Linked DNA regions of Homo sapiens. The protein of the gene in region 1 interacts with the protein of each later gene in a pairwise test. Each region holds a gene or a part of one and is shown on either strand. Other genes may lie near its edges. The genes, in order: VPS4B and ZFYVE19.

Evidence for each region.
Region 2: the proteins of VPS4B (region 1) and ZFYVE19 interact in binary tests that used the Homo sapiens proteins (3 or more experiments, as listed by UniProt).

The regions. Positions count from the first base shown.
Region 1 is NC_000018.10:63,395,638-63,407,995, reverse strand, and holds part of VPS4B (vacuolar protein sorting-associated protein 4B), read left to right. Parts: intron 1-496; coding exon 497-564; intron 565-2,960; exon of another isoform or gene 2,961-4,169; coding exon 4,170-4,289; exon of another isoform or gene 4,290-5,265; intron 5,266-6,956; exon of another isoform or gene 6,957-7,149; intron 7,150-7,292; coding exon 7,293-7,449; intron 7,450-7,799; coding exon 7,800-7,948; intron 7,949-8,672; coding exon 8,673-8,754; intron 8,755-10,742; coding exon 10,743-10,962; intron 10,963-12,358.
Region 2 is NC_000015.10:40,800,207-40,812,603, forward strand, and holds the start of ZFYVE19 (abscission/NoCut checkpoint regulator), read left to right. Parts: upstream 1-6,882; 5' UTR 6,883-7,082; coding exon of another isoform or gene 7,083-7,240; 5' UTR 7,241-7,383; coding exon 7,384-7,662; intron 7,663-8,048; coding exon of another isoform or gene 8,049-8,172; intron 8,173-8,912; coding exon 8,913-9,034; intron 9,035-9,201; coding exon 9,202-9,252; intron 9,253-9,645; coding exon 9,646-9,764; intron 9,765-9,864; coding exon 9,865-10,010; intron 10,011-10,181; coding exon of another isoform or gene 10,182-10,264; exon of another isoform or gene 10,265-10,265; intron 10,266-10,442; coding exon 10,443-10,551; intron 10,552-12,397. Other genes in the region: DNAJC17 (dnaJ homolog subfamily C member 17), read right to left, coding at 7,163-7,240. UniProt on the Homo sapiens protein: Key regulator of abscission step in cytokinesis: part of the cytokinesis checkpoint, a process required to delay abscission to prevent both premature resolution of intercellular chromosome bridges and accumulation of DNA damage.

The DNA.
Region 1 (12,358 bases):
AGTTCATTGTCATCAGGAAGCTTCCTCTGTCCTTTGGAATCCCCAGACTAAGGGTTGTAGACCTTTGTACCTTAGTGTTCCAGATTTTTTTCCTCCTAATATGACCTCTTGTTCTAATTTATATCTTGCCCAGTCCTGATGTTTTTACTGTTGTTGTTTGCAGCTCTCCTGTGATTCATCTTGAATCCTTCATGGAGTGATGTGTGGGGCATGCATTTATGAATTAATACATACCTAAATATGTCATGGGAATTTGGAGCTAGTTCCTGACTTCATTCTGGTCTTTTTGTCCCTTTCTTTTACATGATTCTCTATTGATGATAACGTGACTGCTTCTTATTTACTACATTCTTTAAAATAAGTAAGCATAACTTTTAATGTAAATGTCTGATTTTGCCACTGAAATTACAAATATTTCAGGTTAATTTTTCCTTCATTTTTGCCTTATTTGATAGCAATGAGTGATCATTTGAATATATTAAATTCTTTTTATTAGGAATGACAGTGATGGGGAAGGAGAATCTGATGATCCTGAAAAAAAGAAACTACAGAATCAACTTCAAGGTTGCTTTAGATTTCATTTTTAAATTTACTATCCTATTAAAAAGACTCAAAGTGAATTGTCTATTTGAATTGTTTTTGTTCTCCCTCTATATTTAAATGAAGTTTAAGAACTGGCTTTGGTTCCCAATAGTCATGTGCTGGCTTTGTTTAGAGTGTTTTCTTAGGGTTTGCCCTCTAGGATCATGGTTTGGTCTTTTTTATGTAATAGTTTTGTTGGCTTCACATCTGCCTTTAAAAGGCTCTCAGTCAACTTGCTCTTTCTTTTTGTTTATTTGCCGCCTTTTAGAGAAGGTAACACTTATACTATTAGCACACTGCAAAATTTGATGGTATTAAAATTTACTACTGTGGGAGAAGTTAGGACTTACACGTGGCTTTTATTGCCGTTGCTGTAGCTCACTTATTGATGGTTTATTTTGTTTCTTAACTGCTCTTCATCTGCTTTTCAGTGTTCCTGTTTACATTTAATTGTTTAAGCTTTCTGTGTTTACCATCCACACCTGTAAAGCCCTTTCATTCTGTTCTACTATAGCACAGTGGCATAACAGAGGGGACATAGGTTTTTGGCTCCATTCAGATCTTGATTCTGTTCAAGGGTCTGCCACTTAGAACTTTCTAATTGTGGGCAAGTGACTGAATCTCTCAGAACCAGCGTCCCCCATCTCTAAAATAGAAATGAGCAATAGCTTCCTTTCAGGGCTTTTAAGATTAATGACAGTGTAAAAACTACCTCATATATCTGACGAAGTCTAGGGACTCAATAAATGGTAGCACTGTTTATCTAAAAAGGCATCTATTTGTTGGCTGGCTTTGTTAATCACTGAGATTTGATTATTCTTCGAAATAAATTATCTAACAATTTTTCAGATTGAATTTTTTGCTCACCCATTGGTAGTATGTATTTTGTTCATTTGAATCTTACCAAATAGAATGCATAACTGGGAAGGATTTCCATTTTATAGGTTCAGCCTTGGTTACTGAATAGTGAAAATACTTACCTGAGCCAAACTTTTAGCCTTGCTATACTAGTGTCTTCGTTTTGGTAGTATTTTTGTCTTGCCTACCCTACTGGGATGTCTAGGAAAACACTGTAAGGATAATGTGTTGACAACAGACCAGGTAATGAATAGAGAACATCTTTAGATGCCAAGAACTTCAGTGGTAGATATAGTCCAAGGGCAAAATCTTGAGTTTACACTCAAGCGTAGTGGTGTCCCCACCACCTGAAACTACTGGCACACACTGCGCACTCAGTTGGCATTTATTGGGTAACCCAGTGGGTCTGTGCCAAGTGGCCTTATTCCAGTTGTAAAGCAAGACACTTTTTTTGTCTGCTCTATTGGATTTGGTTTTGTTTCCCTCTCCCTACCCTGCCCCAGGTAAAAATCAGTTGCATATCTTTAATTTTCGAAAAGATACATTTTTTTTTTCTTTTTTGTTTTTTTGAGACAAGGGTGTCGCTGTGTTGCCCAGGCTGGAGTGCAGTGGCGCAATCACGGCTTACTGCAGCCTCGAACTCCTGGGTTCCAGGGATTCTCCTGCCTCAGCCTCCTGAGTAGCTGGGAACACAGGCACACACCACCATGCCCGGCTAAGTTTTTTTTTTTGTTTGTTTGTTTGTTTGTTTGTTTGTTTTTGTAGAGGTGGGGTTTGGCCATGTTGCCCAGGCTGCTCTCGAACTCCTGAGCTCAAGTGATTTGCCCACTTCAGCCTCCCAAAGAGCTGGGATTACAATTGTGAGCCACCGCACTTGGCCGATACAACCAGTTTTTAATAGGGATTTCTCTAAATTCCCTATCACTTACAATAAAGGCCAGAAATGTAAAACAAACAAATAAAAGAGAAAAAAAACCAAATACTTAAAACATTTAAATGAGGAAATGTATTTGAAATTTCAGGATGAAATAGAATATGAAAGGAGTCCTAGCCTTTTATATTTGAATATCCTTTTTTTTCTACTTTTTAATGGTTTGCTGCTGGATTTCATACTATTGTATCTTTTTTGAATTTTTCCTTGTTTTTTGAACAGTATTTTAAATCTTTTACTTCTGTTTTAGATTATGATATTAAGTGTATATTTGTTAAAATTAAAAATCGGTTTGTGATTTGAGTTTTCTGTTAGCTAATTTTATTCAGTGAATTTTTTGTGATTAAGTAATATACTAGTAAATAGTATAGTCAAAGACCGGATAAATTTATATCATTGGAAGTACATTCCATTTGTTAGCATTTTTCATAATCCCATCCCCCCTTTTTAATTTTGCAAACCATGTCTAGTATGAGATTGTTTATCAGTAAACATTCCAAAGTCACCTTTTAACTTAGAAGTATTATATATGAAAACAAATCATGACACATTTTTAAAATTTATAGCAGAAATCTTGAGTCAGACGGTATACATATATAAAATAAAGTTTATTTTTGTTTAACTGACATGAAATCCTAGGATTACTAATCTTAATGAAACATAAAAAAGACGAAATGAATTTACTTTTTTCTTACTTTATAGTAGTCTGAACTTTTGGAATACAAAATGCTTATGGTTTCATGTAATTTTAATCTAGTAGCTAAAGATTTTCATAATTTAGGGAAGTAAGTTGCTAGTAACTAGTCTTAGAGTAACAGATTATCTTTCCTAACAAGAAGAAACAATCAGTAGCAGTGATTTCATAAAGTAATAGATTGTATAAGTGGTGGTGTTCTGTTACACTTAAAACAACTAACTACATGTCATCTTAGAACAGGCTGCTTCATAGTTTATAGTGGAACAGTTTCCATATTCTAGAAAATTAGAAAAGCTTTTGATAAAAGAGAACTAGAAAATTTGTCAGTAGGCTATATTAAAAGACATCCTTCTTGGACTCTTACTGCAATAATTGCTTTGGCTTTTGAATATACTGCATTCAGAAGCTAAATCTTCCCTGTAAGTTAACTTTGTTAATTAACAAAAGTTGTAAATAGATCTATTTAGCAGCCAAATAGAAACTTGGGCAAATCTTAGGAAAGTATTGCAAATCTGCAGGGGTATCTTTTCTCGGTTTCCCATCATCTGCTTCCATTCCTTCCTTTCCTCTCTCCTTTTCCTTCTCCCTTCTGTCTGTCTGCCTATCTTGAGTTAAATTTGTTAAGCATATTTTTTTTTTCAGTGGTTGAGGAGAGGATTAGATCACCTTTTCTTTTGGTTAACAGGAGAAATGGTAGAACAAGTACTTTTGATACTCCAAAATCAATGTATTCAAATATAACCACCTTATGGAACGTTTGGTGCTTTTCCAAACACTCTAATATTCATTATGTCATTTGATTTTCGCACCAACCTATCTAAGTAGTTTGGGCAGATGGTATTATTTTCATTTCACAAGTGAGGAAGCTGAAACAGAAGGGTAAAGTAACATGCCCCAGGTTGTCTAGTCATCCACCTGGTTCCTAGTCCTATTGACTACTCCCTAACACCTGCTTCCTGCTCACGCTATTTCAAAAAGGTTGTTAGTACATAAAACTTTCCCAATTTTATAATGCGTTTCTTTAACATCATTATTTCATGTTGTCTTCTAACTTTGGTGAAATAGTCTTTCTTAATTTAAAGATAACGTAATTTTTTGCAGGTGCCATTGTTATAGAACGACCAAATGTGAAATGGAGTGACGTTGCTGGACTTGAAGGAGCCAAAGAAGCACTGAAAGAGGCTGTGATACTGCCTATTAAATTTCCTCATCTTTTTACAGGTGACATAACTTTTAAATAATTTTATTTCATGAGTTTGTAAAAGTTCATTGATGACTGAGGTGAAGCATTGTCATTCTTGTCACTAATGAATTATCTTAAATAAATTGTGACTGTTAAAAGGTGGTGATATATCTTTATACAAGATGTTTTATTTCTTATACATATCCATATTTGCAGTGTATATATATTGCAAAACAACCTAAATGTCAACCAGTAGGGTAATTCACCAACATGCAGTGGAATACTATGCACTCAGTAAAATAGAGTGTACATCTACATTAATAAATTGAAATCTGCATTGTATTTTATTGAAGAATGTCCACATCTATTGCAAAGATCAAAAAGCAGTTATAAACTGAATAGTATGATTCCATGTTTGCTAAATGTGTATGCTGAGAAGTAAGTATAGTTAGATTCACATAGAAATATTAATATATGCCTAGGGGATAAGATTATAGGAGATTTTTACTTTTGACTTTCATCTGAATTTTTGCAATGGTTATGATTTTTAAAGAGTATTTCTTAAAAAGAGGAGTAAGAATCACTTAACAGTTTCAGAGGAAGTGCATAACCTCTAGTAGCAAAAGGACATTTCATTATCACTGTGAAGAGAATATTGCTGACCTACCATCTGGGGAAACTTACAAGTTCTAGTTCCAGCAGTAAGTGATATGTCTGTGCTAAACCATTCCTTTATATTATCCTTCTTGTGACTGATAGCCTTGACTGTAATATGGCCACACCCACAGTCTGACAGTCAGAGGTTTTTCCTTTTGCAAACATGTTGGTTTATGTCAACAGCAAATCTGCAATGTTGGCCTCAGACTGAAGAGTCCAGACAGTCGTATCGTATAGAGCAGTGATGAAGAGCAAAAAGCCTGTAGGCCACGCACTGTCCGCCTAGCTTCAAGGTGCAGTTTACTACCCAACTTCAGGAGTATGAAACTTAACAGCATAAAAGTTGACATCATAATCCTATAAAAGCACAAAAATATGGTTGAACTCATTTTATGGTATATTACTTATACCACTTTTTCTCAAACATGAGTCATTGATGTATCATCTTCATGAATTTTTCCATGTATGTGTACCATTACTAATTTTTAATATTTTTCTTTGCTTATTTTTTAGAACAACATTTTTACTAGAGTATAGCATAAATATACAGAGACATACAGGAGCCCCTGGGTGTTGGGCTTCCTTAATTGTCACAAAGCAAGCATGCCAGTGTCATCAACCAGATCCAGAAATAACAGCATTGCCAGGGACCTGGCAGGAGCCTTCTGCCTCATTCCTCCCGAGAGGTCATCTCTCTCTCTCGACTTCTAACGCCAGAGATTATTTTGCCTGTATTTGAACTTTAAATCATCTCACATATTTTTACTTAGTAACGTTATTGAAAAGACTGCTTTGTGCCTTTATAAGTGGAAAAAAAAGTGTTTTTCCAATACACATTAAAAAATTATTTAAAGTATATACCACCTAAAAGTACTTCATGTTATACCAGTGGTATATGTACCATACTCAGACACTGACTTGTAAATGTATACATGTAAAATAGGAAAATGAAATTCAAGTAACAGTTGCTTTCATAACAGTTAAGTGAAACAGTGTTATTCATCTGCATATCATTCTTTTGCAGATACTGTGTACACATCCATAGTTTGCACCTAGCAGTTTTTTTTGTTTTGTTTTGTTTTGTTTCTTTTTTTGAGACAGAGTTTCACTCTTGTCACCCAGGCTGGAATGCAATGGCGTGGTCTCGTTTCACTGCAACCTCCACCTCCCGAGTTCAAGCAATTCTCCTGCCTCAGCCTCCCGAGTATTTGGGATTACAGGCATCTGCCACCACACCCAGCTAATTTTTGTATTTTTACTAGAGTCAGGGTTTCACCATGTTGGCCACAGTTGTCCCGAGCTCCTGACCTCAGGTGATCCGCCCATCTCAGCCTCTCAAAGTGCTGGGATTACATACATGAGCCACCATGCCCAGCCATAGTTTTTTAAATGTATGTTTGATAGTTTACTGCCAGCTGTAACCCACCTGTTTTATTTTAGGCAGGATTATAATTGCTCATTAGCAAAATTGAGGCTCGAAGAGTTGATGTATTCACTGGTTATATTTTGGCAAAACTAGGATTTAAAGTAGTATCACCTTTTTGTTACCCAACCATGAAAGTCTGCTACCTAGCTGGAGGCTGAGGTGGGCAGATCACCTGAGGTCAGAAGATCGAGACCAGCCTGACCAACATGGTAAAACCCCGTCTCTACTAAAATACAAAAACTAGCCAGGCGTAATGGCGGGCACCTATAATCTCAGCTACCTGGGAGGCTGAGGCGGGAGAATTGCTTGAAACCAGGAGGCAGAGGTTGCAGTGAGCCGAGATCGCACCACTGCCCTCCAGCCTGGGCAACAAGAGTGAGACTCTGTCTCAAAAAAAATAAAATAAAAGAAAGTCTGCTACCTATAACACTAACCTGTGCTTTCCTGTGGAATCAAGAATTCAGCAGAAACTCACAAGTCATCCAAACTTTGTTAGGTTCACTTTTCCAAAGAGCATAAATATTCAAAGAAAATCTCTTCCAGCTGCCCATTTTTTATGGATATAATTTTTGTACAATATTCTGGTATCAAGCAGTGTACACAGTAGATGATCAGAAAGTACCTTTTAACTGAACTCTTTTCCCCTACTAGACTCCACGCAGGGCAGAAATCCTTTTGCCTGTGCACATGTTACGGTTTTGATACATATTGGTTGAATGAATGAGCAAACAAATGTACTTCCTGTTAGAAGGCTTATGTTATGCAAGTCTCTTTTTGATAAAGTAGTCTCTAGAAGAAACAAAATATATTTAAGACATACCTTAGATTGATTTATTTTTAAAATATTGTTTTGATCCTTAGAGGTTTAGAGTGAAAATCTTTCCAGAGTATTCCTCAGTATAGATGATACAATTAAGTGTTAAAATTCTCATGACATTTTTCTAAATCTAAATTTTAGGCAAGAGAACACCTTGGAGGGGAATCCTATTATTTGGGCCGCCTGGAACAGGAAAGTCCTACTTAGCCAAAGCTGTAGCAACAGAAGCCAACAACTCAACATTTTTTTCAATATCTTCCTCTGATCTTGTTTCTAAGTGGCTAGGTGAAAGTGAAAAGTAAGTAGTAAATCAATTTTTTAAAGTTTTTTCTTTGCCTGTAATTACTGTATCACTCCTTAATAGATTTCTTACATCACTTATAGATATTCAGAGAAGTCATGTAATACAGGTACTCACTTCTCTGTCAAATCAGTCTCTAATCTAGAATTTCTTTTGTGGGAAAAGATAGCATATATCTACAACCTAGTGAATCATAAAGTGAATTATCCAGTTGTAGCATTCTTATTTTCTGTACCTGAAACATGATTAGGCTTTTTAATCTACAGAGTTCTTGTAATATTGATATATTACTTTGTTTTAATCTTTTACTATTTTTTAGAGACTTAAAAGTTTTCATTTATTTTTAGACTGGTTAAGAATTTATTCCAACTTGCCAGAGAGAACAAGCCCTCCATTATCTTCATTGATGAAATTGATTCTCTCTGTGGTTCAAGAAGTGAAAATGAAAGTGAAGCCGCACGTAGAATTAAGACGGAGTTCCTAGTGCAAATGCAAGGTAGTGTTACTAATTTTTTTTTTCTTTTTGAGACGGAGTCTCACTCTGTCGCCCAGGCTGGAGTGCAGTGGCGCGATCTCAGCTCACTACAACCTCCACCTCCCAGGTTCAAGCAATTCTCATGCCTCAGCCTCCTGAGTAGCTGGGATTACAGGCGCGCACCACCATGCCCGGCTAATTTAATGTTACTGATTTTTAAAGTCGTTTTTGTTTATTTTATAACAATTTTTATAACAGTAATGAAAAATTCAAGCAGAATTTCTCCATTCTAACAAACTGTTTCATTTTGCCATGTTTCATTCCAATTGTCTTCCATATGCATACATAATTTTTACTCAATTGTAATTATCTTGTAGGACTCACTGACATAAATAGAAAAGAGATTTAATGTATTCATTTATAATGTACCAGGAACAACTTCAGTAAAAGTAATATGTAGACTTCGAATGAAATTTTTCAAGAAATATTTTGAAACGAATGTTAATAGTATTTTCCACAATCTGGGAGATTTGATTCATATATTTGCATCATATTGCATCATAGTGTATTTGGATCATATTGCCGTAAGGTGATATTTGATTAAATACAGTTCTTTTCCAAAGACAGACTCTCAAGATGAAGCACTTTAATGGTAAAGCACCACATTTCTTAACAGAATATATGGAAGAAGTTTAAAGAACACCAAAATGACAAATTAATTAAAGCATTACCTATTTTAATGCAGGGGTTGGTGTAGACAATGATGGAATTTTGGTTCTGGGAGCTACAAATATACCCTGGGTTCTGGATTCTGCCATTAGGCGAAGGTAGGATAATATAGTAAATATCTTATTTCTCACTGCAGATGTAACAAGTAGATGATAATTCTCTTTTTGTCTTGTCAGGAAGCATTCTAACAACTTTTCAAAAGATTTGTAATGTGCTCTAACCCTGTTGCTCCCCTGCCTTGAGTGGGAGAAGGGTGGTCATTTGCTTGTTTGTTTCCCTAGTTTATCAAATATACAAGATTTCCACACACTTCTGTCTTTCATATTAGAAAATATATTACCTAATGCTTACCTTTCATTCTGATTAAGTTTGGTGGGCACTGATGCTTCAAAAATTTATAAACATAGTTTGACAATTCAGTAAAAACCATTTATATAAAATTTTAGCAAAATGGCAATTCTATAAGTCAAAATAAGATAACCAGGTAAGATTTTTTTTTTTTTTTTGAGTCGGAGTCTCACTCTGTTGCCAGGCTGGAGTGCGGTGGTGCGATCTCGGCTCACTGCATCCTCCACCTCCCGGGTTCAAGTGATTCTCCTGCCTCAGCCTCCCAAGTAGCTGGGACTACAGGTATGCACCACCACGCCCAGCTAATTTGTATATTTTTAGTAGAGACGAGATTTCATCATGTGGCCAGGATGGTCTCGATCTCTTGACCTCATGATCCACCCGCCTCAGCCTCCGAGAGTGCTGGAATTACAGATGTGAGCCACCGTGCCCAGCCAAGATTTTTTTTTTTTTTAGTAAAAACTATATGTCAGGCCGGGTGTGGTGGCTCATGCCTGTAATCCCAGCACTTTGGGAAACCAAGGTAGGCAGATTGCCTGAGCTCAGGAGTTCAAAACCACCCTGGGCAACGTGGTGAAACCCTGTCTCTACTAAAATCCAAAAAAATTACCTGGCCATGGTGGCGCACACCTGTCTGTAGTCCCAGCTACTCGGGAAGCTGAGGTGGGAGAATCGCTTGAGCCCAGGAGGCGGAGGTTGCAGTGAGCCAAGATTGTGCCACTGCACTCCAGCTTGGGCAACAGAGTGAGACTCCATCTCAAAAAAAAATATATATATATATATATATGTGTGTGTGTGTGTATATATGTATATGTGTATATGTATATATGTATACACACACACATCTATCTATCTAATTTTTAAGTTGAAAATGAAACTTCAGTTCTAGGAAAGGTATACGGACTCTTCACTTTTCACTCTTCACAGTTCTGTATTACATTCATTTATTTTGTATGGTAAAAATTAGCACTTCAGTTTTTGCCACTTTTATCCCATTCACTTGATGATTTGCGCCAGCATTCTAGCTTACCATCCAGTACCAAGAAAGGAAATGTGCAGGGTATTTTTGAAAAATTGCCTTATTCTGCACCCATCTCTAGAGGCAACGGAAACTTTAAATTCTTTTCATTGTCACAGAGAGTTACCTGGAGAAAAAACAGTCTGCTCAGACCACTTAAATTATCCCTCATCGTTGCTTCTCTGTCTCCAAATACCGAAATTCTAAGAAAGCAAGCAAAATTATTGTTAATGAAACATAGTGTTTATTCTTTATAATATAGGATTGTTCTGGATGTATTCATTAAAGTGGACATTTTGTGTAATATATATCCTATAAGATTGTGAGGTAATTCTGTTTTGAATGTAGAGAATTACTGTGTCATCTCTACTCCTGTTTTATATTGTTAATCATTAGTCCCTTGATCAAGAGTTCAGAGTACAATTTTGTGGGAAACTGTAACCCTGTAGGACCTCTTTTTATTTCATGAATTCCAGACATAGGAACACTGTGGCCAAAATAACCCAAAAATGCACGAAAGATTCAGCCACTTCAAACTGGCTCCCAGGCTATTTTGATTTTATTTGTTTGTTTTTAATGTGTTCTGGATATTATCCCTTTAACCTAAATATATATGTTTAACCTTGGCACATACAGGCCCACTTAACTTAGTATCTGTTTCTTCTTGGAAATATCCTAATTTTCAATTAAATATATTCTTGATGTAATTTCTCTTTTAAGATTTGAGAAACGAATTTATATTCCCTTGCCGGAACCCCATGCCCGAGCAGCAATGTTTAAACTGCACCTAGGGACCACTCAGAACAGTCTCACGGAAGCAGACTTTCGGGAACTTGGGAGGAAAACAGATGGTTATTCAGGGGCAGATATAAGTATCATTGTACGTGATGCCCTTATGCAGCCTGTTAGGAAAGTACAGTCAGCTACTCATTTTAAAAAGGTAAGTCATTTTTATCTATCCTTTCCTATCTTTTTTTTTTTTTTTTGAGACAGTCTCACTCTGTTGCCCAGGCTGGAGTGCAGTGGCACTATCTGGGCTTGCTGCAACCTCCGCCTCCCGGGTTCAAGCAATTCTCATGCCTTAGCCTCCTGAGTAGCTGGAATTACAGGCGTGTGCCACCACGCCTGGCTAATTTTTTGTATTTTTAGTAGAGACAGGATTTCACCATGTTGGCCAGGCTGGTCTCGAACTCCTGACTCCAGGTGATCCACCCACCTCGGCCTCCCAAAGGCGTGAGCCACTGCGCCTGGCCCTTTTCCTGTATTTTTAAAATCAAGTTTCAAGACCGTCATTGGTTTGTCTTCAAAGAATTTGGGAGGATTTCAGTGTTGTATAATAATACCATAAGTGGGTTTACATAATAGACATATTTCTGTGTCACTGAAACAAGTTCTTTAATAAAGTTTATTTATTGGCCATTTTTGGCTGGGTGCAGTGCCCCATACCTGTAATCCCAGCACTTTAGGAGGCCGAGGTGGGCAGATCTCTTGAGCTCAGGAGAGACCAGCCTCAGGCAACATGGCAAAACCCCATCTCTGTAAAAAATACAAAAATTAGCTGGATGTGGTGGCACACTCCTGTAGTCCCAGCTACTTGGGAGGCTGAAGTGGGAGAATCTCTTGAGCCCAGGAGGTGGAGGTTGCAGTGAGCCGAGATTGCACCAGTGTACTCCAGCCTGGGTGACACAGTGAGACCCTGTCTTAAAAAAAGAAAAGGCCTTATTAATCATCCTAATGTGTTTTAAATTTTCCTATGAAATGATTTTTGAAGTATTTGTGTATTATTTTGATATAAGTATAGAAACTTAAATGTACAGATGTAAGGCTGCTTCTGACACATCTAGAATATTTTTGAGTAGAATCTGGTGCATTTATACCTCATAAAGTAAAAATAATAATAGCTAATATCTTTTAAATATTCACATGCCTGGCACTGTGTTCTGTCTTTTATCTTACTATTTCATTTGGTCTTCACAAAAATCAGCAAGAGAGGTACATGTAGCCAGCCACCTAATGGTGGTTAGTCTTGGACGTAGGTGCTAACACAGTAGCTAGAGTGGGACAGACATGTGATTTGCCTGGAGGTGAGGTGTGTTTCCAAATCTGAAATCTCAGCCATTCTGCTATCCTGCCCCTCCTGTGTTCTGTTTTGTCTGCAAGAACAAGTTAAGCATCTGTGGCTGAGATAAAGTTTTATAAGAAGGCTGTGGTCTTGAGATACCCAGTTTGAGTAACAATGAACTAGGTAATCTGGACCAACCCTTTTGCTGTGAACAACAGTATCCAGTATTACTCATGAACATACATGTGAAAAACTATTAGCAAACCTAATCTCA
Region 2 (12,397 bases), on another chromosome or scaffold:
ACAGGCAACTGCCACTACGCCCAGCTAATTTTTGTATTTTTAGTAGAGACGGGGTTTCACCATGTTGGGCAGGCTGGTCTTGAACTACTGACCTCAGGTGATCCACCTGCCTCGGCCTCCCAAAGTGCTGGGATTACAGGCGTGTGCCACCGCACCTGGCCTCAACATGGTTTTGATCTGCATTTACCTAATGACTAGTGAAGTTGAGCATCTTTTCATGTGTTTATTGACCATTTGTACATCATCTTTGGGGAAATGTCTATTGAGATTGTCTTTTTCTTTTTTTTTTTTTAATTTTTTTACAGACAGAGTTTCACTCTGTCACCCAGGCTGGAGCATGGTGGCGTGATCAGAGCTCACTGTAACTTCAAACTCCTGGCTTGCCCATTTTTTAACCGAGTTGTTTTTTTGGTTGTTGAGCTGTGTTTTTTTTTCTACAATCATTTAAACATGTAAAACCCATTCTTAGCACATAAGCCATTAAAAAAAAAAAAGGTCAGCTGGGCACGGTGGCTCACGCCTGTAATCCCAGCACTTTGGTCAGGAGTTCAAGACCAGCCAGGCCAAGAGAGTGAAACCACATCTCCACTAAAAATATAAAAATTAGCCAGGCGTGGTGGCAGGAGCCTGTAATCTCGGCTACTCCGGAGACTGAAGCAGAGAATTGCTTGAACCTGGGAGGCAGAGGTTATAGTGAGCCGAGATTGCGCCACCATGCTCCAGCCTGGGCGACAGCGAGACTCCGTCTCAAAAAAAAAAAAAAAAAGGTCATGGGCCATTTGGCCCCTCAAACTGTAGTTTGCCCTACTCCTTCATTTTACATTTGGGGAAAGTCAGGTCCTGAGAGACGCAGTGACTGCCCTTGGTCTCCTGATTCTCAAGTAAAGTCGTTGCAGTGGTCTCTTTAGCTACTACTTCATTCATTCAACAAATACTTATTGAGAACCTACTATGTGCCAGTCACCAGGTAAGGGGCTGCTACAGAAGAGCATGAATCAGATCTGGTCCTCAGAAGTAGGAGTGCAGAGGGGATTAAGGCATGAGACAAATAATCACACAGATAAATACATAATTGCAAACTGAAATAAGTGCTAGAAAAAAGAAAAACCAGCTGCCATGAAATAGAATATAAGGCAAGGCTTCTCTGAGGATGCCATTTCGACTGAGTTCTGAAGGACAAGTAAAAGCAACCCAGATTAGCAGAAGGGGAGGAAGAGCATTCCTGGCAGAGGAAAATGTATGAATGAGCTAAGAAATTGTTGAGTATTGGCTGGGTGCGGTGGCTCACGCCTGCAATCCCAGCACTTTGGGAGGCCGAGGTGGGCGGATCACGAGGTCAGGAGATCAAGACCATCCTGTGAATGGTGAAACCCCGTCTCTACTAAAAATACAAAAAATTAGCCGGGCGTGGTGGCGGGCGCCTGTAGTCCCAGCTACTCAGGAGGCTGAGACGGGAGAATGGCGTGAACCTGGGAGGCGGAGCTTGCAGCCACTGCACTCCAGCCTGGGTGACAGAGCGAGACTCCGTCTCAAAAAAAAAAAAAAAAAAAAGAAAAGAAAAGAAATTCTATTGAGTATTTTATTAGAAGTGCTAAATAGGGTTTTCAGGGAGTAGCAAGATCATTCCATTTTCTGTGAGGAGAATTGGAGAGGCTCAATAGATCAGAATGGAATAGGCTGAAAGCAGAAAAAAGTTGGCAGGCTCCTCTAAACATTCAGCTGAGTGGATGGGGGCCTGGGCTGGAGCAGTAGTGGTGGAGACAGAGAGGGTGAACAGGTTTGGGGATTATTTGGGAGGCTGACTCATCAGGACCCGGTGATGTTCTAGATGGCAGGGGTGAGAGGATAGGGAGGTACTGAGAATGACTCCAGGTTCCTAGCTTGAATGGATGGATGGTGGTGCCACAAGATGGGGAAATCCAAGGAAGGAGCAGGTTTGGAGAGAGAATTGAAAGAGTTCAATTTTTTTTTTTTTTTTTTTCGAGACAGATTCTAGCTCCGTCACCCAGGCTGGAGTGCAGTGGCTTGATCTCAGCTCACTGCAACCTCCGCCTCCCAGGTTCAAGCGATTCTCCTGCCTCAGCCTCCCAGTAGCTGGGACTACAGGCACGTGCCACCGCGTCTGGCTAGTTTTTATATTTTTAGTAGAGATAGGATTTCACCCTGTTGGCCAGGCTGTCTAAAACTCCTGACCTCAGGTGATCTGCCTGCCTGGGCCTCTCGAAGTGCTGGGATTACAGACATGAGCCACTGCGCCTGGCCAATTTTTGGATGTAGTAAGATTTAGACCGCTGTGAAACATCCACATGGAGGGATCAAACAGGCAGATAGATACACAGATTTGAGATTCAGAGAAGTAGTCTGAACACAAGTTAAATTTGGTGGTGGTGCTCATCACTACCACTGAACCGCGCTGGACAGGGCCAGGGAGCCTTAGCAGAAGGAGCAGAGGCCTGAGCTGGACATCAGGGCATCAGGGCATCAGGGCATCAGGGTTCTAGTCCCAATTCTGCCACTAACCACCTTCTCCGAGCTGCAGTTTCGCCATCAGTAACACAGGGAGCTTGGCCTCCATTAGGGCTTCTTTGACTTTTGGATTAAAATTCCCTCCTCTGGCCAGGCGTGGTAGCTCATGCCTATAACCCAAACACTTTTCAGAGGCCAAGGCGGGAGGACTGCTTGAACCCAGGAGTTCAAGACCAACCTGGCCAACATGGTGGAACCCGATCTCTACAAAAATACAAAAATTAGCCAGGCATGGCGGTGCACACCTGTGGTCCCAGCTACTTTTGAGGCTGAGGTGGGAGGATTGCTTGAGCCCAGGAGGCAGAGTTTGCAGTGAGCAGTAATCATGCCACTGACTCCAGCGTGGGTAACACAGAGAGACCCTGGGTCAAAAAAAAAAAAAAGAAAAAAAAAGTCCTCCTCTCCTCCAGAATAAATACAAAAAAAAAAAAAATCACGCATGATTTTCAGAGGTTCCTTCACCCAGTTCCTGGAGCCTTTCTGTAGAGGGCAAATTGAGAACTCCTAGGCTATTTGGACAACCAGTTTAGGAGTTCTTCCTTGTATACACTTTAAATATTTGTTTGTCCTCTAGGTTGCCCTATGGCAGCAACCTAGGTTGTCTATGACAGGTATTAAACCATGGTGCGGGGACACCAGGGCCTAGGTTTTTCTTGCTTTCTACCAAAAAGTGTGTTGCCATGAAGCTAGCCAGTGTATCCAAAGTGTAAATGGGAGTAAGTGCTAGAAAGGAGAATGGCTGCTATGAAAAGAAAAATAGGTAAGGCCTCTTTGAGGGTGCCACCTACTTATGCTCCAAAATAGACTGTATGTATTAATATATACATTTGCTTTCTTGGAATGCCCTGCCTCCATCTCCACATGTCCAAACTCTGCCCATTCTTCAAGGCCCCAAATACCTTCTCTCCTGCCTTTATTCCTTCTCTCAAACTAATAGCAATCTCAGCCTACACTGAACATCCACAGCACTTTGTACCCCTCTTAAGGAACTCACCATGTCTCCCTTGTATGCGTGAATCTTGCCCCCCCATTAAAGGCAGGAGCAGCACCTGTTACCCTTTATAGAGTGGCTTCACACCTATCCCTTATCTCATCTGAGTTAGAACTGGATCCCAGCCACCACTGCCCAGCTCAGACCTTGGTCTCTTGCCTAGACACCAGCCCCATCTGACCCCCTAGTGGCAGCTCTTCCATTCCTCCCACCCCCACCCATTTTCATTATGCACACTAGTGTTGAATTTTCTTTTCTTTTTTAAGAGTGGCAGGGTCTCACCCTGTCATCCAGGCTGGAATACAGTGGCAAAATCATAGCTCACTGAAACTTCCCAGGCTCAAGTGATCCTCCCACCTCAGCCTCCCATGTAGCGGGGACTACAGGTGCGTAACACCCTGCCCAGCTTTTTTTTTTATATATAGAGAGAGAGACAGGCTCTCACTACGTTTCCCAGGCTGGTCTCAAACTCCTGGCCTCAAGCGTTCCTTCCACCTTGGCCTCCCAAAGTGCTGGGATTGCAGGTGTGAGCCATCACACTCAGTCAAATACTTTCTTTAAAATCCAATTATGGGCAGGGCACAGTGGCTCATGCCTGCAATCCCAGCACTCTGGGAGACCAGGCAGGAGGATAGCTTGAACCCAGGAGTTCGACACCAGCCTGGGCAATATAGCTGGACCCCGTCTCTGGAAAAAAAAAAAAAGCAAAAACAAACACAAAACAAATTAGCCAGGCATGATGATGCACACCTGCAGTCCCAACTACATGAGAGGCTGAGGTGGGATCACTTGAGCCCAGGAAGTCGAGGCTGCAGTGAGCTGTGATTGTGCCACTGCATTCCAGCCTGAATGACAGTGAGATCTTTTCTCAAAAAATAGACATAAAAATAAAAAAAAAATAAAATCTGATTATGTAACTTCTCTAATTAATAGAGAATGACTTCCAACTGACTTCCTCAGGAGTTCTCAACTTCAGGGTTAGAAACTCTAGATTTCAGCCGGGCGCGGTGGCTCACGCCTGTAATCCCAGCACTTTGGGAGGCCAAGGCCGGCAGATCACTTGAGGTCAGGAGTTCAAGACCAGCCTGACCAACATGGTGAAACCCTGTCTCTGATAAAAACACAAAAATTAGCTGGGTGTGGTGGCACATGCCTGTAATCCCAGCTGCTCAGGAGGCTGAGGCAGGAGAATTCCCTGAACCTGGGGGGCAGAGGTTGCAGTGAGCCAAGGTTGCACCACTGCACTCCAGCCTAGGCAAGAGAGTGAGACTCCGTCTCAAAAAAAAACCCTCCAGATTTCCCACTTGGATCTTTTGTGAAATGTCTCAAATAGTTTCTCACTATTAATAAAGTACTAATTAAATAATTTGCAGGCAGGGCATAGTGGCTCACACCTGTAATCCCAGCACTTTGGGAGGCCGAGGTGGGAAGATCACGAGGTCAGGAATCCAAGACTGGCCTGGCCAACACGGTGAGACCCCGTCTCTACTAAAAATACAAAAATTAGCTGGGCGTGGTGGCGGGTGCCTGTAATCCCAGCTACTTGGGAGGCTGAGGCAGGAGAATCACTTGAAACAGGAAGGCGGAGGTTGCAGTGAGCCGAGATCATGCCACTGCACTCCAGCCTGGGCCAAAGAGTGATACTCTGTCTCAAAAAAAAAAAAAAAAAAAAAATTAGCCGGGCGTGGTGGTACATGCCTGTAGTCCCAGCTACTCCGGAGGCTGAGGCAGGAGAATCGCTTGAACCTGGGAGGCAGAAGTTGCAGTAAGCTGAGATTGCGCCACTGCACTCCAGCCTGGGCGACAGAGCGAGACTCCGTCTCAAAAAATAATAATAGGCCGGGCACGGTGGCTCACGCTTGTAATCCCAGCACTTTGGGAGGCTGAGGTGGGCAGATCACGAGGTCAGGAGATCGAGACCACGGTGAAACCCCGTCTCTACTAAAAATAAAAATTATTAGCCGGGCATGGTGGCAGGCGCCTGTAGTCCCAGCTACTTGGAGAGGCTCAGGCAGGAGAATGGCGTGAACCCGAGAGGCGGAGGTTGCAGTAAGCCGAGATCGCGCCACTGCACTCCAGCCTGGGCCACAGAGCGAGACTCCGTCTCAAAAACAATAATAAAAAATAATAATAATAAAGAATTTAAAAAATAATAATTTGTAAACATAGAGCACTTAGAATACTATCCAGAAAAAAAAAATACTGTCTAGGACATAGTAAGCATTATACAGATGTTAGGAATTATTAATCCTAAAATATTGAAACACGAGAGAGGTGGAGCAGATGCTTTTGATGCTTCATAGACATCCCATGGCCATTTCTGATTTCAGCTGCGGCTGCAGGGGACAGATTTGTGCAGGTTGACAGCATTTCTCAAGGGCCCTCTGGGTCTCTCTGATTTTCTGCCCCAGAGCTTCCTCTTCTCAAAAGCTCACTCACCCCATGAGCAGGGCAGCCCAGAAGTACTGGGACATTAGTGGGCACTATTTTTTTTTCCTTTTTTTTTTTTTTTTTTGAGACAGTCTCGCTCTGTCGCCCAGACTGGAGTGCAGTGGTGCAATCTCAGCTCACTGCAACCTCCGCCTCCCGGGTTCCAGTGATTCTCCTGCCTCAGCCTCCCAAGTAGCTGGGACTACAGGTGTGTGCCACCACGCCCGGCTAATTTTTGTATTTTTAGTAGAGAAGGGGTTTCAGCATATTGGTCAGGCTGGTCTCGAACTTCTGACCACATGATCCGCCCGCCTCGGCCTCCCAAAGTGCTGAGATTACAGGCGTGAGCCACCGCGCCCGGCCTAGTAGACACTAATTTTCTTTCTTTCTTTCTTTTTTTGAGAAAGAGTCTTGCTCTGTCGCCCAGGATGGAGTGCAGTGGCGCGATCTCGGCTCAGTTGGGCACTAATTTTCATTTGATGAACGCCTCTCCTTCGTATATTGTTAAAACTACCACCATGATCCAGGGGGAGATAAAAGAAATCCTAAATCCAGCTTGATCAGTGTTTCACTCCCTGGCATCTTTATCACCACCTAAGGTAGCATGGACCTCTATACCATCTGCCTTAACCTTCTGATCCTCCTGCTTTTAGCCCACTAACTAGCACATGCTGAGAAGGGCATCAGCTACTTGAAAAGAGTCAATGGGCTTGAGTGGAAAAGAAAATAGAGACAGCAGGGTCATCGGTCACATTGGCAAGGGGGCATGAAAAGGGAGTGGAGAGGCTTTGAGATCTTACTTTTCTTTCGTTCTAGGCTCTTAGTGGAAGAATTAAATCAGCCTGCAGAAGAGACTGAAATGAGGCACCTCTTGTCACAGTCAAGGCAGAAGCGGAAACGGAGGCCGAGACTGCGCAGGCGCAGAGGAGGCTAGCGTTCCTTGCTGCCTCGCCCCGCGGCCTCTAGGAGACAGGGGCCACGGGGAGAGCACAGCCACCCGGCGCGAAGAGCCCTCTGTACCCCGCTTCCTCTTGAGGCCCTCGGACCGTCCAGGAAATGTCTGGGAGCCCGCCTGCGGAGGGCATAGCGCCGACCCTCGCTCCCCGCCCAGGACCCGAATGAACCTGGAGAGCGGATGCCAGCAGTGGCCGAGGCGCTAGGACAGGAAGGACCGCCAGACCTCTCAAGATCAGCCTTCCTCGCCACCGTTCTCACCTCTTTGTCCGCTGCCTTCTCCTCAATGCCTAGCAGCGCGTACAGGTCCATCTGTAAGAGCTCCTTGGTCACTGCCATGGTTCCGGCCTGACGGATTCGTACTACAACTCCCAAGAGTCTAAGCGCGCGTGAGGACTGCAGGCTCCGAGCGGCGCCTAGCCCTCTGGGAATTGTGTTCTGGGTCAGGCTTGACTGACTCTGAGGGAGGCCGGCAGTCGTGAATGAACTACGACTCCCAGCAGCCCCCGTTGCCGCCGCTGCCGTACGCTGGCTGCAGGAGAGCGTCCGGATTCCCTGCTCTAGGTCGCGGCGGGACAGTGCCAGTGGGCGTGTGGGGCGGGGCAGGGCAGGGAAGGGAAGGGCGGAGCTGGGGTGAGGGTCCAAGGGGCCCAGGACTTGGCCGGCGTGATCTCAGCTCTGCAGACCCTGCGGTGCTGGGAGCCACCATGGAGAGTAGGTGCTACGGCTGCGCTGTCAAGTTCACCCTCTTCAAGAAGGAGGCGAGTCTTCCCTCCCCGAGGGCTGCAGGGCCAGGGAGGAGAGGAGGGAAAAGCGCGGGACTTAACGTCCAAAGACTTGGTCTTACGGCTCCTTTCCAGCTGTGTGGTTTTGATGAAGTCATTGATCCTCAGTTTCCATTTCTGTAAAATGGGGCTAACATTCTCTCGCTTTCAGGGTTTATGTGAGGGTCCACTGAAGTGCTTTAGGTGAGAGTTCCCTATAAACTGTAAAGCGCGCTGCCGTCGTTTTTGCAAAGCTACTCTTTTCTGTCGGCCCAGTGTAGCATCTGGCGGTTTTCTTCTCTCCACCCTGCTCCTCCGAAGCGCGGTGTCCATCACACCAAGCCCGTTACTCCCTCTGCTCTGAAATCTTCCCCATCCCGCAGCCTGCCCTTCTCCAGGTCGCTGGAGTTAGATTACCACACTTCCTCCTGCTTCCGGGGCACCATGGTGAAGGCTGACTGTCCTGTCCCTATCACAGACCTGCCAGATTCCTCTGGTAAACTGCAGGTTCCCTCTGCCTCAGTTGTGGCCAGGGATTCTGACCAGGAGATGATGGGAACTAGATGGAGTAAATTAGTGTCACGCAGGAAGGCAGGACCGTGCAGCATTCACCAACCTGGATTTTGGAGTCAGCGTTCAAATCTGAGCTCTGCTGTCTTATTGAGGCGGTGACCTTGGTTTGGATAAGTTATGTAACCTCTCTGGCCCTCTCAAAATAAGGATAATCACGGTTGGCATCAAGATTAAGTAAAATAATGTGTGTAAATTGTAAGGAATAAATCACATGATGAATGTTAAGTACTGGGTTTAGTGCCTGGCACATAGTAAGTGCTTAATAAATGGAGGCTATTGTTAGCCCATCCTGAGCCAAGCCTCCCTCCATCTCTGCAAGAGCAGAGGAGGCATCGGCTCTGCCCTGTCTCTCTGATTCTCCTTTGTGGAAGAGTCAGTGGCCTGAAATACTGGGCTTTATCTATCTGTCTTCTACATCCCTGGGTCAGGGAATTGAAGACAGGGTAGAAAGCATGGGAATTTTGTATAAACCTTCATTTGGCTTGAATAAGGTACTGGAAACCGAGGAATTGCTTTACTCACCATCCCTAGGCCTTAGGGGCCCCACTCCTCTTCTTCCTCCCAGCAGCTGGTCATAACTTCAGTGACTTCTCTCTGTGTGTGCTTGGAGAGTCCCTGGGAGCAGCCTGCAGGGGCGGGTGAGAGGGGGATCTCCCGCTTCATGTTTCTTGTAGTACGGCTGTAAGAATTGTGGCAGGGCCTTCTGTTCAGGCTGCCTAAGCTTCAGTGCAGCAGTGCCTCGGACTGGGAACACCCAACAGAAAGTCTGCAAGCAATGCCATGAGGTCCTGACCAGGTAAGAGGCAGGCATGGGTGAAAGTTCAGCCAAGTATGGCAGTGGGCATCTGGCCAGCCCTCACAGCTTTGTACTCTGTCGCGAGAGTCAGCCGAGGAAGTGTTTGGAGTGGGGGGCACTGCCTGGTGGGATGGCAGGATTTATAACACTAGATTTCTTCTCTGTAGAGGGTCTTCTGCCAATGCCTCCAAGTGGTCACCACCTCAGAACTATAAGAAGTAAGTGCTGAAGAGAAAAAGACAAAGAGCATTGGGGAAAGGATAAGGGAGCCATAGGGAAAGACCCTGCCCCCATCTTCTAGATAAAATGAGCACAGAATCAGGAGAATTCTCTCCTCTCTGGCTCCTGACTGCCCTCTTGGGCTGGTAAAGCAGCTCTTCAGCCCTCTCTCCAGGACAGGCACTTGGTAGAGCTTGTCCTTTCAGCTGGACCGTCTGGCTGGTCAGCCAGGTTGGGCTGCAGGGTGACATGAGTGAGGGGCACAGCAGATTGCCCATTGGAGGCCTCCCTAAGTGCCCAGAAATGATTTGATTTGAATGGGAAACAGTGAGTGGGTGCCTTCACTCTTCCCCTCTGCCTTCTTCAAGAGCCTCTATCTCATATCCTGCCAGGCGTGTGGCAGCCTTGGAAGCCAAGCAAAAGCCCAGCACTTCCCAGAGCCAGGGACTGACACGACAAGACCAGATGATTGCTGAGCGCCTAGCACGACTCCGCCAGGAGAACAAGCCCAGTGAGCAGGGGCAGATGGGGTTGCCTAGAGGACACAGTCCAGGGCTTCTGGGACTGAGATGCCTCTGGCCCTTACAAGGCTCCCCCCATGCCAATTGCAGAGTTAGTCCCCTCACAGGCAGAGATAGAGGCACGGCTGGCTGCCCTAAAGGATGAACGTCAGGGTTCCATCCCTTCCACCCAGGAAATGGAGGCACGACTTGCAGCGTTGCAGGGCAGAGTTCTACCTTCTCAAACCCCCCAGCCGGTGAGTGTTATGGCTTAGGAGAGAAGCGGGGGTGCTAGCGGGAGGACCCAGCAGAAGCCCAGATACAGGTATTGGGGTGATACAAAAGTAATTGTGGTTTTTGTCATTACTTTTAATTGCAAAAACCTCAGTTACTTTTGCACCAACCTTTGTACTTTATGTACTTTGCAGGAGTTGGCAAAGCCTCCCACCCCTACCTCCTGATCCTCAGGCCTGCTACCAGACCCGGGGACCAGGGACAAACAGCACGATAGGGTAGGGCAGGAAAAAGTGGCCCCTCAGTCCTGTTGGGGACGGCCAGACCTACTTGATTATGTGGGCCCTGGATCCCTCTCCTTTCCCTGGGCTTTGAGAACTACTTAGCATCCATCCCTGACCTAGACTGCTTCTGGGCTACCCCTGCTCTCCACTGAGGTTTCCTCGTCTGTGCAGGCACATCACACACCGGACACCAGGACCCAAGCCCAGCAGACACAGGATCTGCTAACGCAGCTGGCAGCTGAGGTGGCTATCGATGAAAGCTGGAAAGGAGGAGGCCCAGGTAACCCCTCCACTTGGCTCCCTAGGAATCTGCCCTACCTCTTTCCCCAGACTGGAGAGGCTCTGCTGTCCACCCTCTGGGAGATGAATATAAATCGGAGAGTGATCAACGTTATAAGAGTTACCATTCATTGAGTGCTTACTCCAAAGGGAGCCAGTGTAAGCCTAGTGTTTAAGTGCACGGGCTTTAGAATCAGACAGTGATTCCCATTTCTACCACGTATTAGCTGTGTGATGCTGGACAAGTTACTTGACCTAAGTCTCACTTTCCTCATGTGTAAAATGAAGGTATGTATGGAAAAACCTACCTCACAGGGAAATCAGGAGGAGTAAACGAGATAATCCAATAAGTGCTTGGGAACATACCTGACTCATAGTGAGTACTCAGTGAATATTCTCTGCAATCATGATGTTGATAAGGAGGAAGAAGCTATTTAGTAAAACCAGCCACATCTCAATGCTCAGTAGCCATATGGGCTTCATGGCTACCATCTTGGACAGCACAGATATAGAACATGATATGGAATGTTTCCATCATCATAGAACATTCTGTTGGACAGTGCTGTTTGAAGGCTTCAGAGCAGTGGTTTTCAACAAAGGATGATTTTGCCCCCAGGCTACTTGTGGCAACATTTAGAGACTTTTTGGTTGTCACAACCCAGAGGATATTACTGGCACCTACAGGATAGAAGCCAGGGATGCTACTAAATCTACTATGTCACAGGACAGCACATCATGATGAAGAATTACCCGGTCCAAAGTGTCAAGAGAACTAAGATTGAGAAGTCCTGCTTTAGAGGCACAATCTCATTGAATATCCTCAATAATCTTATGAGGCCAGGTGTGGCTCACGCCTGTAATCCTAAGCACTTAAGGAGGCAGAGGCAGGAGGGAGGATAGCTTGAGCTGGGGAATTTAAGACCTGCCTGGGCAACATAGCAAGACTCTGTTTAAAAAAAAAATCTTATAAGGTACATACTATTCTTTTTTATAAATGAGGAAACAGGCCTGGTGAGCTTGAGGAACTTGACCAAGGTCACACAGCTATTAAGCTGCAGAGATGAGACTTAAACCTAAAGCTGTGATTTTAAACCTCTTGCTCTGAAACACTAAACTGAAGGTGACTGTGTCAGAGCCACACCTAATCTGGTAAAATTCTTCCTGCCCAGTGATATACAAGCTCTTAGCTTCCTTCATTGCCCTCTCTGTGCTAATCCCAGGAGATGCTAATTCCTGCCCTGAAAGGCAAAGAGATCGGCTGAACCTGGGCCTTATCATGTCTTGATCCTTTAGGGCAGTGATTCTCAAACCATAGGACGCCCACCCTTAGGGCAGAATGTTAAAATATCAGGTAGATGGGGATGGATGTGGTTGGAAAAGACATGGGTAAAATTATTAGTTTTTTACATTTGGAAAAATGGAGGAATACTAATTTTATTTGTGATAGAAACCATAGGCGCTAGTGCTGAGCAAAAAGCTGATGATCTGTGATTAGAAAGGGTTGAGAAAAGCTGGGCATGATGGCTCACGCCTGTAATCCCAGCACTTTGGGAGGCTGAGGCGGGTGGATCACGAGGTCAGGAGTTGGAGACCAGCCTGACCAACATGTTGAAACCCCGTCTCTACTAAAAATACAAAAATTAGCCGGGCATGGTGTCACGTGCCTGTAATCCCAGTTACTCAGGAGGCTGAGGCAGGAGAATCGCTTGAATCCAGGAGGCAGAGGTTGCAGTGAGCTGAGATTGCACCACTGCACTCCGGCCTGGGTGACAGAGCGAGACTCCATCTCAAAAAAAAAAAAAAAGAAAGAAAGAAAGAAAGAAAGAAAGAAAGAAAAAATTATTAAA